Homo sapiens: one gene and its partners. The protein of the gene in region 4 purifies or fractionates together with the protein of the main gene of each other region. This does not show direct contact. Each region holds a gene or a part of one and is shown on either strand. Other genes may lie near its edges.

Region 1 (3,770 bases), on a different chromosome or scaffold from region 4:
GCTGCAGGAGCAGGGATCATCGCCTAGACCCCGGTGGGGCTGGGGGACCTGAGCTCTGGGAGGCCTCCTGACCTGGGAAAGCAGCAAGGTTCTGCGGTGAAGGCCTTGGCCCAGCCCCGCCTGAGGATGGGCTGGAGGATCAGGATCCCATCTCCGCGATTGATGTGGGTACTTGCAGGACTGGGGTCAGGGGAAGACCATCCAGGGAGATCAGGGTTTGGGCAGACAAGGGAGACTTCACTTGTCCCAGACATCACTCTTTTGCCCTCTTTGGTTCCCTGAGGTGACTAGAGTGGCTTTTTTGTGGGGAGGGTAGGCGTGAGTCCTAGAGGTGCAGCCATAGCCAGGAGGTGGCTGGGCAGAGCAGGCAGGATGAAGTATGCCATTGCCCCCCTGCCAGCCGTGTTCTTCCCTGCCCTCTCTCCCCTGAGGCAGGTGGTTTTCACAAATGGGCTGGCAGTGATTGTAGCCAAGGCGGGGTAGAGAGAAGCAGCCGCGGGGCTGGGCCTTTGAGTGCCACGTGCTGGGGTGTGGTGTGCACACCTGTCCAGTTGGATGGCTTGGACTTCCCCAGGTAGGAACTGGGATCAGGCCCAGGCCTGTCTCAGGGCTTGGAACAGGGCCAGGGACCAGGCAGCTGGCTCCACACAGCTGGCACCCACCTGGCCCAATGCCATCTTGCCCTGTGGCTCTGTTTGCAGGAAGAGCTGGACATCCGCCCAAAGGTATCGTCTCTTCTGGGAAAGCTCGTCAGCTACACCAACCTCACCCAGGGCGCCAAAGAGCATGAGGAGGCCGAGAGTGGGGAGGGCACCCGCCGGAGGGCAGCCGAGGTGAGCTGGTTGGGGCGGCAGAGGGGCCACACCTGGGAAGACAGACACAGCACCATGGAATTGACTGTTTCCCCACATGGTGGTGAGCACACTGGGGGAAGTGGGTGCCAAGCATAGTGAGCAGGGAGGATGGGCACTGAATGCCTTGTCTCAGGAGGCTTTAAGAAGTGACCTAATGAGAATCCCCCCGGGGGGCAGAGGGCCAGGGAGCCCCTCAGGAATGACAGCAGGAGACACAGCTGCCTGTACTCAGCCTTTACTGTGTGCGAGGTACCACACCAGGCCTGGGTTCTCATATGTCATCTGTACAACAAAACCAAGAGGCAGGTGCTTACTATCATCCCCATTTTTCAGACAAGGAAATAGTGTCAGGGACATTAAGGAACTTGTCTAAGGTGACTGAGCTAGACAAGATCAATGTGTAATGCTGGGAGATGGATTCGTAGATTTTATGGGAGACAGATTTGTGGGATATGTAACTATGCAAAATGCCAGATCAGTGACATTGTGTGAGGCTGGCTAAGAGTGTTGCCCTTGGAGCCAGGAACCAGGTTGTCTCTCGGAGGTCATGCAATCCAGAGCAAGTCACAAACCCTCCTGCTGCTCGCAGTGTTGGCCCAAGGCTCTATTGGCAGAAGCCTCCAACAACCCCCTGGGTTCCTTGAGTGCCAGTGTCAGGGGACATGTGTATGTGATCGGAGCCTGATGCTGCCTTGTGGGGCTTTCCTGTCCCACTTTTTGGTCACTAATCCAGTTCTCTGGCCCTTCAGCCCTCTTCTCTTTGGGGTGACTGTTACCTCTTTGCCTAGCTCCTCTGTGTCATTGCGGCTCAGTGTAGCTGAGGGCTGGGGATTTTTCTACATTTTTCATTTGGAGGCTAGGGACCCTCCCTCTCCACACACTGACTCCCTGAGGTTTGGGAAGCAGTGGTGTTTTAAGAGGAGCTGACGTCTGGCACTGGCTGTAGTATTCTCAGAGGTCGGCACAAGCAGAAGGCGCTCCTGGCTGGGATAAGCCAGGCCTGCAGCCTCACACCTGGTCGTGAGATTTGGGCCTTTCTGGGGTGGGGCCAGCAGAGAAGGTAGACCCCACTGAAGCGCGTCTCTCACCTTGCCCTTCAGGGAGGCAAACCAGCCCACACTTCAGAGAGGGCAGCTGATACCTTGAGGTCGCACAGACCTGACCCTGACCCTGTGCAGCCAGGTGTGACTAGATAGCAGAGAACCCTAACTGCGTCTGGCCATGTCTGTCCAGCACTGCAGGGGTGTCTCAACCTCTGAGAGTGCTCTGCCCACAGTGGGTGACAGGATCCTTAGGTCAGAGCCTCATCCTTGTCCCTTCAGGCCAAGCCAGGGAGCTGGTGGCGGGGAGTGAAGAGGCCCCTGAGAACGGCTAGTGCACATCTCAGCAGGAATGTGGGAGGGATGCCTGGGCCAGAGAGAGCCCATCATCCCTTGGCCCAATGGGGAACCCGTGAGGATGCTTAGCTTAGCTATCCAGCTTACCTGGCCACAGGGTAAGGATGGGAGAGGGTGACTGGGTGTCTTAGCTGCAGTAGTTTTTTCATGGAAGAAGGAGGAGCTGGGTCAAGTCTTTAAGGAGTCAGTAGGAAGTTAGGGATCTGGGGCTGCTGAGCTGTGGTCCTCACCCAGGGCAGGCCCGAGCAGGGGCCTCGGAAAAGGAAGGCTTGAAGCAGGAAGGGTGGGCCTCCGACCAGACCATGCCAAGACCCAAAGCAGCCTCTCCCCAGCAGCTGCTCCAGCTCCAGCACCGGCTTGATGACCTTCTGAGGCTGCCAGAGGTTATTTGGGGATGCAGAAAGCATTTCCGGCCCACCCTGCCCTTTCCCACACTGTCCTTTTCTTAGAGTGACTCAGCCTGGGATGGGGGTGGGACTGGGAGCTCTTGCTGTCGCTATTCTGTGGGTGGCATCCTCTGAGAAGGGCTCAGACAAAGCCCAGATGAGGGGGATCCGTCCCCTGCACTGCTCCACGCAGGACAGGTTGAGGAGCCATTTGTTTTTGCTGAGGCTCTTCTGAAGTCCTTTAGGTCGCTCACAGGTCTTGCCCCAGGCCAGGACCCTTCAGGAGGGGCATTAAGGAACTTGTCTAAGGTGACTCAGCTAGACAAGATCATGGCCATGGAGTTCTCTTCTCCCTAGCTTCAGGGCAGCACGGGCACTGTCTCGTGGGTCTTCCCTGTCCCCTCTCCCCGTATGATTTTCACTAATCTAGTCCTTTGGATCAGTGAGGAGGCTTTGCTGGGGCTCCAGTGGAAGCTGTCAGGGCCACACTTCGGAGGCTGCACTCTTGGGGGCTCAGTGCCTCAAAAAGATGTCAGCCAGCCTCTGTGCTCTCAGCCTCTGCCCTGGCCTCCTGGCTGGCCCCTACTCTGCCCTGAGTTGAGAAAGCCTGCCTGGATTTGCGTATTAGATCTTCCTCACCTGCCCTACAGCCTGAGCACTTTCTCTGTAGGATTTTCCCAACAGGATGTCCCAGGGGCTTCCAAAGCACCACTCACTGGGTTCAGAAGCACCTTTTGGGTACCTGCAGGGCCTGCTGGTGATAGAACCATAAACAAGCCAAGCCTGCCCTAATATAGTAACAAAATATACAAGCACATTCTGTTACCATGACCTGTAGTGACCACTGTGATAGGGAGTATCAGATGCCAAAGGAATGTGAGAGGGAGAACCAACTCCACCTGAGGCAACCTTCGGACATCTTCCCGAGAGAGGTAACAGTTTCACTGAAGAGTTTGCCAGGCCGTGAGGCAGGGCCGACTCTCCCAGGCAGAGTCCAGCACATTCTCAGGTTCGCAGAATCTGAGGGACCCATGTGGTCAGGGGCTGGAGCTAATAAGAGAGGTGATGGGACACATCTGGTGGCCCAAGCCAAGGAGTTGGACGGCACACTGGATTACAAGACAACAGAGGGT
Region 2 (3,770 bases), on a different chromosome or scaffold from region 4:
CCAAGCAGTGAACTCTTTGGCTTCTGAGTGCGGAGGATGACACAAAATATAGAAAAACAAACCCCAACAAGTAGGCCTATTTCAGTACTTAGCAGTGCAGAGGACAGCATAGTAACAAACCAGATAACTGTATCCATTCTACTAATACTCCACATTTTGGGAAGATCCCTAAATTTACGAAGGGCTCCCCGTAGATTTACAATTGTGATCACACCAAGGACACTTTTTTGAAGGGAATAGAACAAAGGAGCTATTACTAGGAGGACCAACAAAAGAACCAGGGCTGTTACCACACCAGAAAGCTGAGTATGGCAGCCTGTTGATTCTTTAACCAATGTCTTTGCAAGAGCTGCACTAGTAGTAAAACAGTGGAAGAAGGAAGGGATGATATTACAAAAGCCAATGGCATACATTTCCTGGTTTGCTTTGACTGTGTAACCATGTTTCTTGGCAAACATCTCAGAAAGTGATACAGTGATAGCAAAACCAATGATGGAAATAGCTATTGCATCTACAGCCACACTAGGAATTAGGTTCCATTCTGGTACTTTGGGTGGCATAAACCCAGTGGGAATATGTCCAGCAATACTAGAATTATAATTTTCATGTAGTTTTCCAAAATGAGAGGCTAATGTGGCTGCTACAACAACAACAAGTTCAATAGGAATCGGTGCCTTAAGCTTGGATTTGAAGTGTTCATTGAGTTCTTTGGTTGGCAAAAGAACCAAAAGGCACAAAAGGCTGGTGATAAGATCACAGAGATTGGTCTTATGGATGTTTCTGAAGACATGTATCCAGGTAGTGATGAGTGAGCCCACACCATTAGTCCGAGGAAGGTTGAGCCCAAGAAGATACTTGGCCTGAGATGTAAGAATAGTGAAGGAGGCACCAGTGACAAATCCACTCAGCAAGGCATCTGAGAGGTAGACAGAAACAAAACCCACTTGAAAGAAGCCCATCGCTACCTGGAAGGAAGGATATAGAAGTGTTAAATATAAATGGAAAAGAACTTCTAAATTTTATATTATCCTGACATTTCTTGCATGGAGACATATCATCAGAGCATCACAGAATGTCAGAGCTAGAATAAACACAATCATATATCAATCTTCTCATTTTACAAAGATGAAAATTATGTTTAAAGGGCTAAGCAACTTGCCCAAGGTCACACTGTTACTTATTAACCCAGGTGAGACAGGAACTTTGGATTTCTTTCTTTTCATACGTTTCTTAAACTTGAATAAGGTTCATACCTCTTTTTTTTTTCATTCTTCCCATCACAAAGAACAGACCTCTTTTAAAAGAAAAACATTCTCAAGGATCCACAAGAAAACTTCAAATTGGAAAAAATTATTCTAGTTAAGAAACCAAGTATTTTCCTTAAATTACAAATCACTACTGTAAAAGTGAAGTCTTACGGCTTCTCAGCCTCTTGGCTAAGAGCAAGTGTACAAGTGAAGTTTTAATTGGTAAAACAAAAAATTAGATTTACATCAAAGTAGAATCACACTTTAAAAATTATTGTAGATTATCTTTAACCTCATACTAAGAAACCATTCTCATGCAGTATATATGTACTTATGCCACACTGTCTCCCATATTAATAAAAATTCTGCATTTTTACTTCTTTATATTTTCCTCTGTCTAATAAGTTTTCAGAATTGTTATGCCTTCTTCCTTCTTGGTGGGACATACTAACAAAAAGGCAAAAGTTGGTTGGGCGTGATGGCTCATGCCTGTAATCCCAGCATTTGGGGAGGCAATATTGGGAGGATCACTTGAGCCCAGGAGTTTGGTCATAGAGAGACCCTGTCTCTTTATAAATAAATGAATAAATAATAAATAAGTAAGTAGACTTATTATTTACCATTATATATGAGTAGACAGCTCATCTTCACACCATCTTCACTCTCCCTCCCCACTCATCTGAGCACCAACTAAAGTGAGCTACTCTTCCCCTTCCCTTGTTGGTTTGAAATGCCTGCATTAGAGAAGGTTTAATCCTGGCACTGACTCCTGGATGCCAAAAGCCAGGGGCATGATGATAATGACAGATTAGTGGATTCTATGGGAGACTCAAGAATTTGATTTCTTATCCTTTCTCCTGGCTGATAATATGAAACTGTGGTCCCCAACTTTTTCCCTCCCTCCCCAACAATCCAAGACAACCACTACCTTTAGTAAGAGTTGCTCAATAGATCAGCAATTTTAATGGAAGGTAAGAGACATTTAGAATTTGAGGCTGGGTGTGGTGGCTCATGGCTATAATCCCAGCACTTTGGGAGGCCAAGACGGGAGGATTGCTTGAGCTCAGGAGTTTGAAACCAGCCTGGGCAACGTGGCAAAACCCTGTCTCTACAAAAAATAAAAATAAAAAATAAAATAAAATAAAATAAAATAAAATTAGCCAGGTGTGGTAGCATGTGCCTGTAGTCCTAGCTACTCAGGAGGTTGAGGTAGGAGGACTGCTTGAGCCAGGGAGGCGGACGTTGCAGTGAACTAAGATAGTGCCACTGCACTCCAGCGTGACAGAGTGAGACCCTGTCTCCAGAAAAAAAAAAAAAGTGAGAAACTCCTGCACTCTCAACTCCATTCTGTTACCCACTTGCCTAACTGCTAATGCTGACTCTGCCAATAACCAGCCACAAATAATCTCAAGCAAAGCCAAGATTTTCTGACATGTAAAATTAAGGAGTTGTACTGGGTGGTGGAGGTCCAGTGAACCAGCCTTATATTACCTGTGGAGTCAGGTTAGGGTTTGAATTTTGCCTCTACCCTTCATATATCCTGAACTCTCAATAAATGATACCTTTAATTATTGTGATTCCTCAGATCCCTTAGAGATATGAGATTTCATGTACTAGATTACTTTTCTAGAAATAACCAATTGTTTCATTGCTGCTTACCTGATAAACTCCAGCTATAAAGGTTACAGTGCTGCCAACCATAATTGCATAGCAACTTTTGTCACATATCCTGTCTGATGTATGATTTAATAATGTGCTCCCATTTGAAACCATTCCTAAGGAAGGAGCACTATGGGCATTGTCATAGCCAGCTTTCTGTAGTTCTCGGTCAACTGTCTCACCAATCATAAGGCACAGTACTCCAAAAATGCCCACAGAGATGTGACGGGAGGTACCCAAGAGAAAATAAATGATGCTGGCAAAAAAAGATGTGTACAGACCATAGACAGGTTCTTGGCCAGCCAGCAGGGAATAAGCAATGGACTGGGGCACCAATAATATGCCCACAATCAAGCCTGACATCACATCCCCTAAAATGTTTTTCTTTAGGTCGTATTTTGGGAGCCACTGCAAAACAGGAAGGAAACCTAAAATCATATTTTTGGCTTTGGCTGGACTGCACTGGCAATTCTTCTGCAGCTTTTTAATAACAAACTCCTTGAAGTTTGTATCTGATTTCTCTTGACGCTCAATAAGGATCCTATGATAAGGTCTGCATTGATCATTGGTCTCAAATTGCTTGAAGTCAGTACTTGATTCCCTTTGAAGTTCCAGATGGATCCCAGATGGATAACTGTCATTTCCTTCAGCTGAGTCTCTGGGTGAAACGTTATGTTGCTCTTTACTTTCTGAAGACATTTCTGGAGATAGATGGTTCAGCTTCCTACACCAGAGAAAATACCAGTGTTCATCAATAAAGTAATTCTCAGTGCTCACATATACTAACAATTCTATTTGTCATTTCATGAGAGTTAAAAGGAATTCAGTTTTGGAATAGGTATCTTATGTCCCTTTTCCTTAATT
Region 3 (3,770 bases), on a different chromosome or scaffold from region 4:
CCTAACGTCTGTAAATTTACTTTTGTTGATGTTTACTTGCATCTAATGTAGGTCTAGGCATAGACTTTGTCTATTATCATGGAAATACAAAGTACAAGTGATCTGATGAACTTTGTTATACCCATCATCCATTTTGCCATATAGTTTTAATTCCTTTCTCCTCTCCATCTCCCCCTCCCCTGCCCCATACAGACACATTTATTTACAGACACATTTGAAGCCCTTTGTATATCCATTGTTGATCCCACTCTCCCTTCTCCAGGAGTAACCACTTTTTCGAATATGGTGTCTGTCATTATGGACATGTTTCTTTTTTACAGCAGAGTGGGTAGCAAATGTCTATGCCATGTTGGTATTCCCAGATCAGCTCTAGTCTTTGACTGTGTCACAGCAAAAATGATCCTGTTAATCAGAGTTGATTCTGCCCCTTCTCTATAGATCTCTCTGGTAAATGTGGAGGAACTATATCCTAAAGCCTTGAGTTAGTCTATTAATAAACTGGTTTTTAAAATTCATTAAAGAGAAACAGCTTATTGAGAATTAATAGACTTAAATTTTTTTTAAGAATGAATTGTTTCTAATATGATAGTTCTAATAAAGCACTATTGTACTGTAAAAGTGAAAAAGTAAGTGTGAAGGAGGAAATGTTTTTCTAAGGCTTTCACTAGGGTTAGGGCGGTAGGTTACCACAGAGGGATCGGGACATATGAGTTAAAGGGATCCAAATCATTTAAGAAGCCTTTCAGAGCATCAGTTTTGGTGCCTTCTGGCCCCTTGACTCAGGTGTTGGTAGGGAGTCTACTCAACTATGAAGTTTCTTTAAAGCATATGAACCCCAGCAGTTCCCAAACTTTGTGACCTCAGGGCCCCTTCACACTCTCCAATATTATTGAAGACCTGAAAGAGTTTTTGTTTATGTGGGTTATATCTGTTGATGTTTATGTGAAAAATTAATACTGAGAAACTTGTATTCATTTATTTATTAATTCATTAAATAACAACACATTCTACCTTAACATAGATCACTTTTTTTTAATGAAAAGTAACCTTTCCTAATGAAAAATTTACCGACACAAGAGATTGTTTTAAATTTTTCATTTTTAAAAATGTCTGGTTTAATAGAAGACAGCTGAATTTTCATATTTGCTTCTGTGTTCAGTCTTTTGGAGTATCACACATCATACAGCCTTTGCACTTGTGAAAGAATTTAAGTATGAAATCCAGATAATGTTTTAGTATTGTCCTGAAAATGGTTTTGGCTTTACAGATTCTCCAATGTAAAGTAATTCTTTAAAATGAAATACATACTAAAACTAAAATTAATTTTATTATGTATAATTTGAAGGAATATTTAACAATGGAAAGAATTTGATAAATATTTATTTCCCAAATGTGTGTTTCTTTCACCAAGTCTTTTATGCTGTGTAAGAAATAAATAGTCAGTCTGCAGTTGCTATGTCTGCATTCTTCTTTATCTAAGTCAAATGAATAGAGGAAAAAATAATCCTTAGTTTTGAGAGCAAGGATTCTTTCTCTTTACCCTCCCTTTTAGTGTTACGTTAGATTTTTGGTTAGTTACGCATTTTTTAAGATTACCAGTGTGGTATAAGTTCAGCATTTGTCCTTAGACATCATGTTTTAGTTATCAGTCATTATGTACTATAAAATATTTATTAAATATTACTTGTAACAATTATTTCCTTTTAAAGCATCAGAATTTTGAAGAACAAATGCAAGGCATGAAGACCCAGCTAATTCAGCTGAGTACCTTACTTCGATTGTTAGACAGTGGATTTTGCAGTTACTTAGGTAAGTTTAGTGAATCAGAACTATACCCAGCAAATTGTAGAGTAATGCATAGAAAAAAATGTAAAGAACTCTTTAAAGAAGCCAGGTGCAGTGGCTCATGCCTATAATCCCAGCACTTTGGAAGCCAAGGAGGGAGGATTACTTGCACCCAGGAGTTTGAGACTAGCCTGGCTAGCACAGTGAGACCCCATCTCTACAAGGAAAAAAAAATGCTGGCTGTGGTGATGCATGCCTGTAGTCCCAGCCACTCAAGAGGCTGAGGTGGGAGGATTACTTGAGCCGAGGAGGTTGAGGCTACAGTGAACTGGGATCACTCCACTGCACTCCGACCTGGGTGACATAGCAAGACACTGTCTCAATAAAAAAGAACTTAAAGACATATATACTCTATTGCACTTTCTTCGGTTCCATAAAAATGTGGAACCAAACTCTCTTTGTATAATTCTGCCTTAAACTTGATTCGTAAAATGTATTATTTGTTAGTTTTTAAAAAGAAGTCAGCCTTCAAGTTTGAAATGATTCCTTAACGTAGAAGACAAATGTATAGGGCCTTGAATTGCCTAAGATGCATAGGAAAGTTAGAGAAAAGTAACTGTATTCTGACATAATTAGCATAAGAGTAAGTCATATGTGTGTTTTTTTCTTCTGCATAGAATCTCAGGACTCTGGATACCTTTATTTTTGCTTCAGGTGGCTTTTAATCAGATTCAAAAGGGAATTTAGTTTTCTAGATATTCTTCGATTATGGGAGGTAAGTCCTTAAATTATTATGCAAATGTGATATTTATTATGAAAAGAAACAATTTATTCTGTAGAGTGTAAATGAATTATGATAGCCTTACTGAAATATCTAAGGCAAGTATGTTCCAAAATTCTGATGAACTGGTAGCCTCTTCTTAAAAATTAGTTTCACACTGAATATTTGGTCTTTTGGAGCTTCGTTCTTCAAATCACAATCTCTGTGAGATTTGGGGCCAAGAGGTATCCCAGAACAAGTGCTCTAGACCATTTGCTGCCTTTGTTCTTCCTTTGTGAGACTTGACTTTATGTGAGGCTTTGCCACATCTGTTATAGAGGATATTCTTATGTTTTTGGTGTACTCCTTTTGTTCCATTTTTTACCCAAGGCAACTCTTTATTTTTTCAACTTTTATTTTAGGTTCAGGGAGTACATGTGCAGGTTTGTTACATAGGTAAATTGCATGTTGCTGAGGTTTGGTGTGTGAATGATTCCATCACCCAGGTAGTGAGCATAGTACCCAATAGGTAATTTTACATCCCATGTTTCCCTTACACCATCCCCCCATGTGTAATCCCCAGTGTTTATTTTTCCATGGCAACCTTTAATGAAAAACCAAATCATTTCACATTTTCTAAAGTATTTGCTAATAATAAATCAGTGTGCTTTTTTTTTTTTTTTTTTTAAAGAGAAGGGGTCTTGCTATGTTACCTAGACTGATCTCGAACTCCTGGACTCAAGTAATCCTCTTGCCTCAGCTTTATAAGTAGCTGGGACTACAGGTCTACAGGTGTATGCCACTGTGTCCAGCCCAGTGTGCTTGTTCATAGAATGCTGGTATAATGATTGATCATACCTTAGGATAACAGAAATTCTTCCAAGGAAAGAATTGGGAGATAATCCATTTTGATTGTAAATCCAACTTTATACAGTGGAACTCTAGTGGTCTCTGAGGTTTTTACAGCTGGAAATGGATTCCTATACTATTGATGGCTGTGCTACCATTAGACAAGGCATTGTGCTGATTACAAGTTAAAAGTGGATTACTTTATGCTCACTTCCTCTGTTCTCAGATTAGAAGTAAAACCCACATGGTCTCTATCTGGAATCGTACTTAAATGTTTATCAGTTTTGTTAAATTAGTGTCTTAATTTGGGGGTTAAAAATGGGTTAATGTATTTATGCCTAGTGTTCCATTATTGGAACGCTAAGCATGTGGGAGT
Region 4 (4,041 bases):
ACAGGCTGGGGAATTATATTTCATAATGTTTTCATGGTCATGTAATCTTACATAAATATGTATGGAGTGGGGTCGTTCATGATTTTTTTTTAAATGAGGTATATTGTATGTACTTCCCTGCATCCTGTTTTTATCACTTAAAGATGTATCACTTAGAGATAGATTAAATACAGACTAACACCCTTAATTTCTTTTACCAAGTTAGTTCCTTATTTTGTTATTGCCTGTTGTGGCTTGGGTTTTGACCAGTAGACACAGTGCTGCCATTAATATCATTCTGTATATCCTCAGGGAGATTTTAGTCCTAAGCGGAGTAGGTTCCCAGGACAAGGAATTGTTCTCAGCAGTATCTTTTCTCCTGCTTATCTCATTTATTATTACAAATTCAACCATTTTATTGTTCTATCCATCGCTTTTAAATTGGGGTAGAAGTTACAGTGAAAAACACAAATCTTAAGTGTGCAGTTCATTATAAGTTTTGACCAATGTATACATTCATTTTGACAAATGTATACACTCATGTTATACTCCAAACAATTTCTATACTCCAAACAAAATATTGTTTGTTGTACTCCAAACAATATTTCTGTCACCCTAAAAAGTTCTTTAGTGTCTCTTTTCAGGCAGTCTCTACTCTCTCATAGGCAACCACTGTTCCTGTTTCTTTCACCATGGGTTAGTTTTGCATGTCCTTGAACTTCATGTAGATGGAGTCACACGGTTTGAAAGTTTTTGTGTCTGACTTATTTTGCCCAGTGTAATGTTGTTGAAATTCATCCATATTTTTATATTGTATCTGTTGTTTGTTCCTTTTTTCAGGACACTATTTCATTTTATAAAAATACCAGAATTTTTTTGTTTTTTTGTTCTCTTGTTGATGGACAGTTAGGTTGTTTCCAGTTTGGGGGTATTATGAACAAAGCTGCTGTGAGCATTATTGTTTTGGGGAGGCAGTTTTCATTTCTCTTGAGTGAATACCTAGGCACGGAGCTGCTGGATGATGCGGTGCTAAAGAGTTTTCCAAAGTGGTTGGGGAAGTGAGTATTTTTAATTTAAAATGGATAGTCAGTTCCTTCATTAAAGGGCTTAAACTCACCAGTGACTGGTGAATTTCTACCAGTGGCTCTCCACGTCTCCACCAGCAAAGAGAGTTTCTCTCTTTTTAAAGTTGTGCCAGTCTGATGAAGCCAGAGTGAGAGCTTGCTGTCACTCTAATTTGTAGTTCCCTGAGTGCTTAAGATGGCATCATCATTTTTTAAAAAGCTCTCCAGAAAATTCAAATGTACAGGCAGGATTAAGAATGCTGCTATTGAAAGGTGACAGGGGGAAGACAAAGATCTGACCTCTTCAGGCAGTAGCACCAAGAATGCAGGGTGGATGTTCATTATTTAGGATCAGGGAGACTTCTACAAATTTGTTTGTGGATAGGCTAAAGTGACTGATGAGAAGTGAGAATAAGTTTTTAGAAATATTGGGCAGAGATGGGATTAAGAATGGAGGTGAAGGTATTAGATTCTGCAAGGATCAGGAATAGGGGAGAAGGAACGCACAGTGCACAGTTGCCTGGAATCATTTTGCACAGTGCCTGAGGTTTCTTTGTATCCAGTGGGAAAATTAATTGGTATTCGTGATCATTTGTATAATGAGTAAACTTTCAAATAGGGTTGTTTAAAGGGACTGAATTTCACCCATCTGGAAAATTTTGCCATCCAGACTGGCTCACTCCAGAGGTGCCAGGTAGCTGAAGTTTCTGAAGAGCTGGACATCTATGTTATATGGTGTGTGCAGCCCACATAGGCCTGGTTTCCCACTTAACTAAACGCTTTGTATCAAGAATGGACTTGTTTGGGAAGGGAATATTTTGTAAGATGATGCCTAGTATTGTCTGAGAGAGATAGAGCTTTCAGGTTAAGATCTTGAGGCTTGCACCAAGTGCAAAAAATGAAAATCAGAGTGCATTGTGTTGGGGAAAAAAAAGTGAGTTTGGTTCCTTTTGGGGAAGAGTGGGACTCATGTACACGAGCAGAATGGAGGCTGATACTTCATCTCATTTAGCTGCTTGTTTGTTAGTACTAAACAGGATTAGTATGAAAACAGGAAGTTCTCAGCTGGAGACTTTAAAGGAGAAAGGAGGAATATTAAAATTCCCTTTGTTTTGTGAAAGCCACTGAAATTTAGGTTTTGGTTGTTACCATGCTATACCCTAGCCCATCCTGACTGATAGAGGCATTGCCTGACACAGAACCCTGCCATCATCTCATTCTACAGGATTGGTGCTCCATGGTAGAGCCAGGGTATTTTTTCTTAATAATTAAAGTATTTTTTTTTACCTTTCCTCCGTTAAGGTGGACTTAGGTGAAGGCAAGATTTGCTTCTGTTGTGAAGAATTTCAACCAGCCAAGTGCACAGACAAAGAAAATGCCTTGAAACTCTTTCCGGTTCAGCCCTGTAGTGCTGTTCACCTTCTACTTAAGGTACCTCAAACAGATTCCCACCCGCACGGTAAATACACCACGGAGCCCCCAAAGAAGGCAAACTTACTTGAAATATTCCTGTTCTATTACCTCCCTCAAACAATTAAGCTGCTGAAAGCGCATGTGAGTGACCCCAGAGACAGAATTGAATGCAGAAAGAACCACAGATTATTGTGTGTGTTAAATTATGTATGGACAGCTTTCTTTGTGTTGAAGAACTGTAAGATAGTAAAAAATGGAAAGGAGCCTGACTATATATATGTATATGTATACACATACACACATATTTCCACATATAAACATATGCATACGTACATATGTATACCTACACACACATATACGGTGTAGCTTTTAGCAAAACCTTTAAGTCGCACACTCGTGTGTCATTGTTCTGATGCTCATTTGTTTGCTTACATGGGTCATATGGGCCACTGAGTACTACCAGTCTGCAACACGTAGACTAAGGAGAGAGATTGGCCAGAAAATATGGGGGAATTGAAGCACCTTAGCTCTTGTTTAATAAGCAACAACTATAATAAGCCAAAGGTATTAAACAAACAGATGATCCCAGTTGAAGAGAAATACAAAATTAGCCTTCATCAGGGAATTGGATAAAAATTGTGCCCTGACTTAAGGAACATTAGCTCAGTGAGTGACAAAATCAACTGGTGAACCCTGAGGTATGGCTTTTTGAGAGTCCACTTCTGCCGGTTTTCTTTAGATATTTGTTTTGGGTTTCATTTTGGTGGGGAGGAAGAATCTCCAAGGAAAGAGAGAACTGTTCCAAGCTACCAGCTCTGGGTTGTGTGGGATGTGGAAATGGCCTGCTTTCCATGGCTTCTGCATTTTTGGTAGCTGAGTCACCCCCAAACTTTCTGAGCCAGGACTTAGCTTGGGGAAAGCCCCACTCAAGGAGCCAGGACTGTACCAACAGAAGCGTTTGGAATGGCCTTTGCTATTTTGAGATGTGTGTTTAGTGGAGAGAAGTCCTATTTACACTCTGGCTGGGCCAGCTCCTTCAGTGTCCTCGTCGTGTGCATGGGGCAGCACAGCCAATTGCTCTTGAAATAGAATTAGTGGCCACAAATTAAGCAGTGTGCTGTGCTGGTGGGAGGCTGTGGGAGGGAGGAGGCTGGGAATTGCTATCCCTGGGGAAATCAGCCTCAGAAGAGAAGCTCACTGCTCTCCTGGAAGGAATGTTTCTCGACAGTATTCTGATGCTTGCAAAAAGAAATACTATCATACCACGTTGTTCTGTGACAGAAAGCTTCTAAGATAAGTTTTTGGAATTAAGAAGTACACATTATTGCATGAGGGTCATAATAATAGCCAGCATTTATTTGGGCACTTTCCACGAGCCAAACACCATCTAAGTCCTTTACATGCATCCTCTCCTGAGAATTGTCTTATGGAGGCAGCGTTATTATTATTTTAAAGATTTTCTACATTGTATTCTGGTGATGTTTGTTGAAGTACTTAGTGGTGCCATTGTTTCCTTGCCCCAGAAAGTCCTCTTTGCCCTGTGTGCCTTGAATGCCCTGACCACCACCGTCTGCTTGGTGGCCGC

What was found.
Region 1: the proteins of ENTREP1 (region 4) and SLC12A4 purify together in Homo sapiens (affinity purification with mass spectrometry; 3 studies listed by BioGRID and IntAct, with this or other methods). This does not show direct contact.
Region 2: the proteins of ENTREP1 (region 4) and SLC26A2 purify together in Homo sapiens (affinity purification with mass spectrometry; 3 studies listed by BioGRID and IntAct, with this or other methods). This does not show direct contact.
Region 3: the proteins of ENTREP1 (region 4) and TBC1D15 purify together in Homo sapiens (affinity purification with mass spectrometry; 3 studies listed by BioGRID and IntAct, with this or other methods). This does not show direct contact.

What each region holds. Positions count from the first base shown.
Region 1 is NC_000016.10:67,958,638-67,962,407, reverse strand, and holds part of SLC12A4 (solute carrier family 12 member 4), read left to right. Parts: intron 1-701; coding exon 702-833; intron 834-3,770. UniProt on the Homo sapiens protein: Mediates electroneutral potassium-chloride cotransport when activated by cell swelling. May contribute to cell volume homeostasis in single cells. May be involved in the regulation of basolateral Cl(-) exit in NaCl absorbing epithelia.
Region 2 is NC_000005.10:149,977,488-149,981,257, reverse strand, and holds part of SLC26A2 (sulfate transporter), read right to left. Parts: intron 3,631-3,770; 5' UTR 3,606-3,630; coding exon 2,907-3,605; intron 966-2,906; coding exon 1-965. UniProt on the Homo sapiens protein: Sulfate transporter which mediates sulfate uptake into chondrocytes in order to maintain adequate sulfation of proteoglycans which is needed for cartilage development.
Region 3 is NC_000012.12:71,915,989-71,919,758, forward strand, and holds part of TBC1D15 (TBC1 domain family member 15), read left to right. Parts: intron 1-1,709; coding exon 1,710-1,809; intron 1,810-2,462; coding exon 2,463-2,560; intron 2,561-3,770. UniProt on the Homo sapiens protein: Acts as a GTPase activating protein for RAB7A. Does not act on RAB4, RAB5 or RAB6.
Region 4 is NC_000009.12:69,373,391-69,377,431, forward strand, and holds part of ENTREP1 (endosomal transmembrane epsin interactor 1), read left to right. Parts: intron 1-2,345; coding exon 2,346-2,474; intron 2,475-3,979; coding exon 3,980-4,041. UniProt on the Homo sapiens protein: Functions as an activator of the E3 ubiquitin protein ligase ITCH in the ubiquitination of the CXCL12-activated CXCR4 receptor. Thereby, triggers CXCR4 endocytosis and desensitization, negatively regulating the CXCL12/CXCR4 signaling pathway.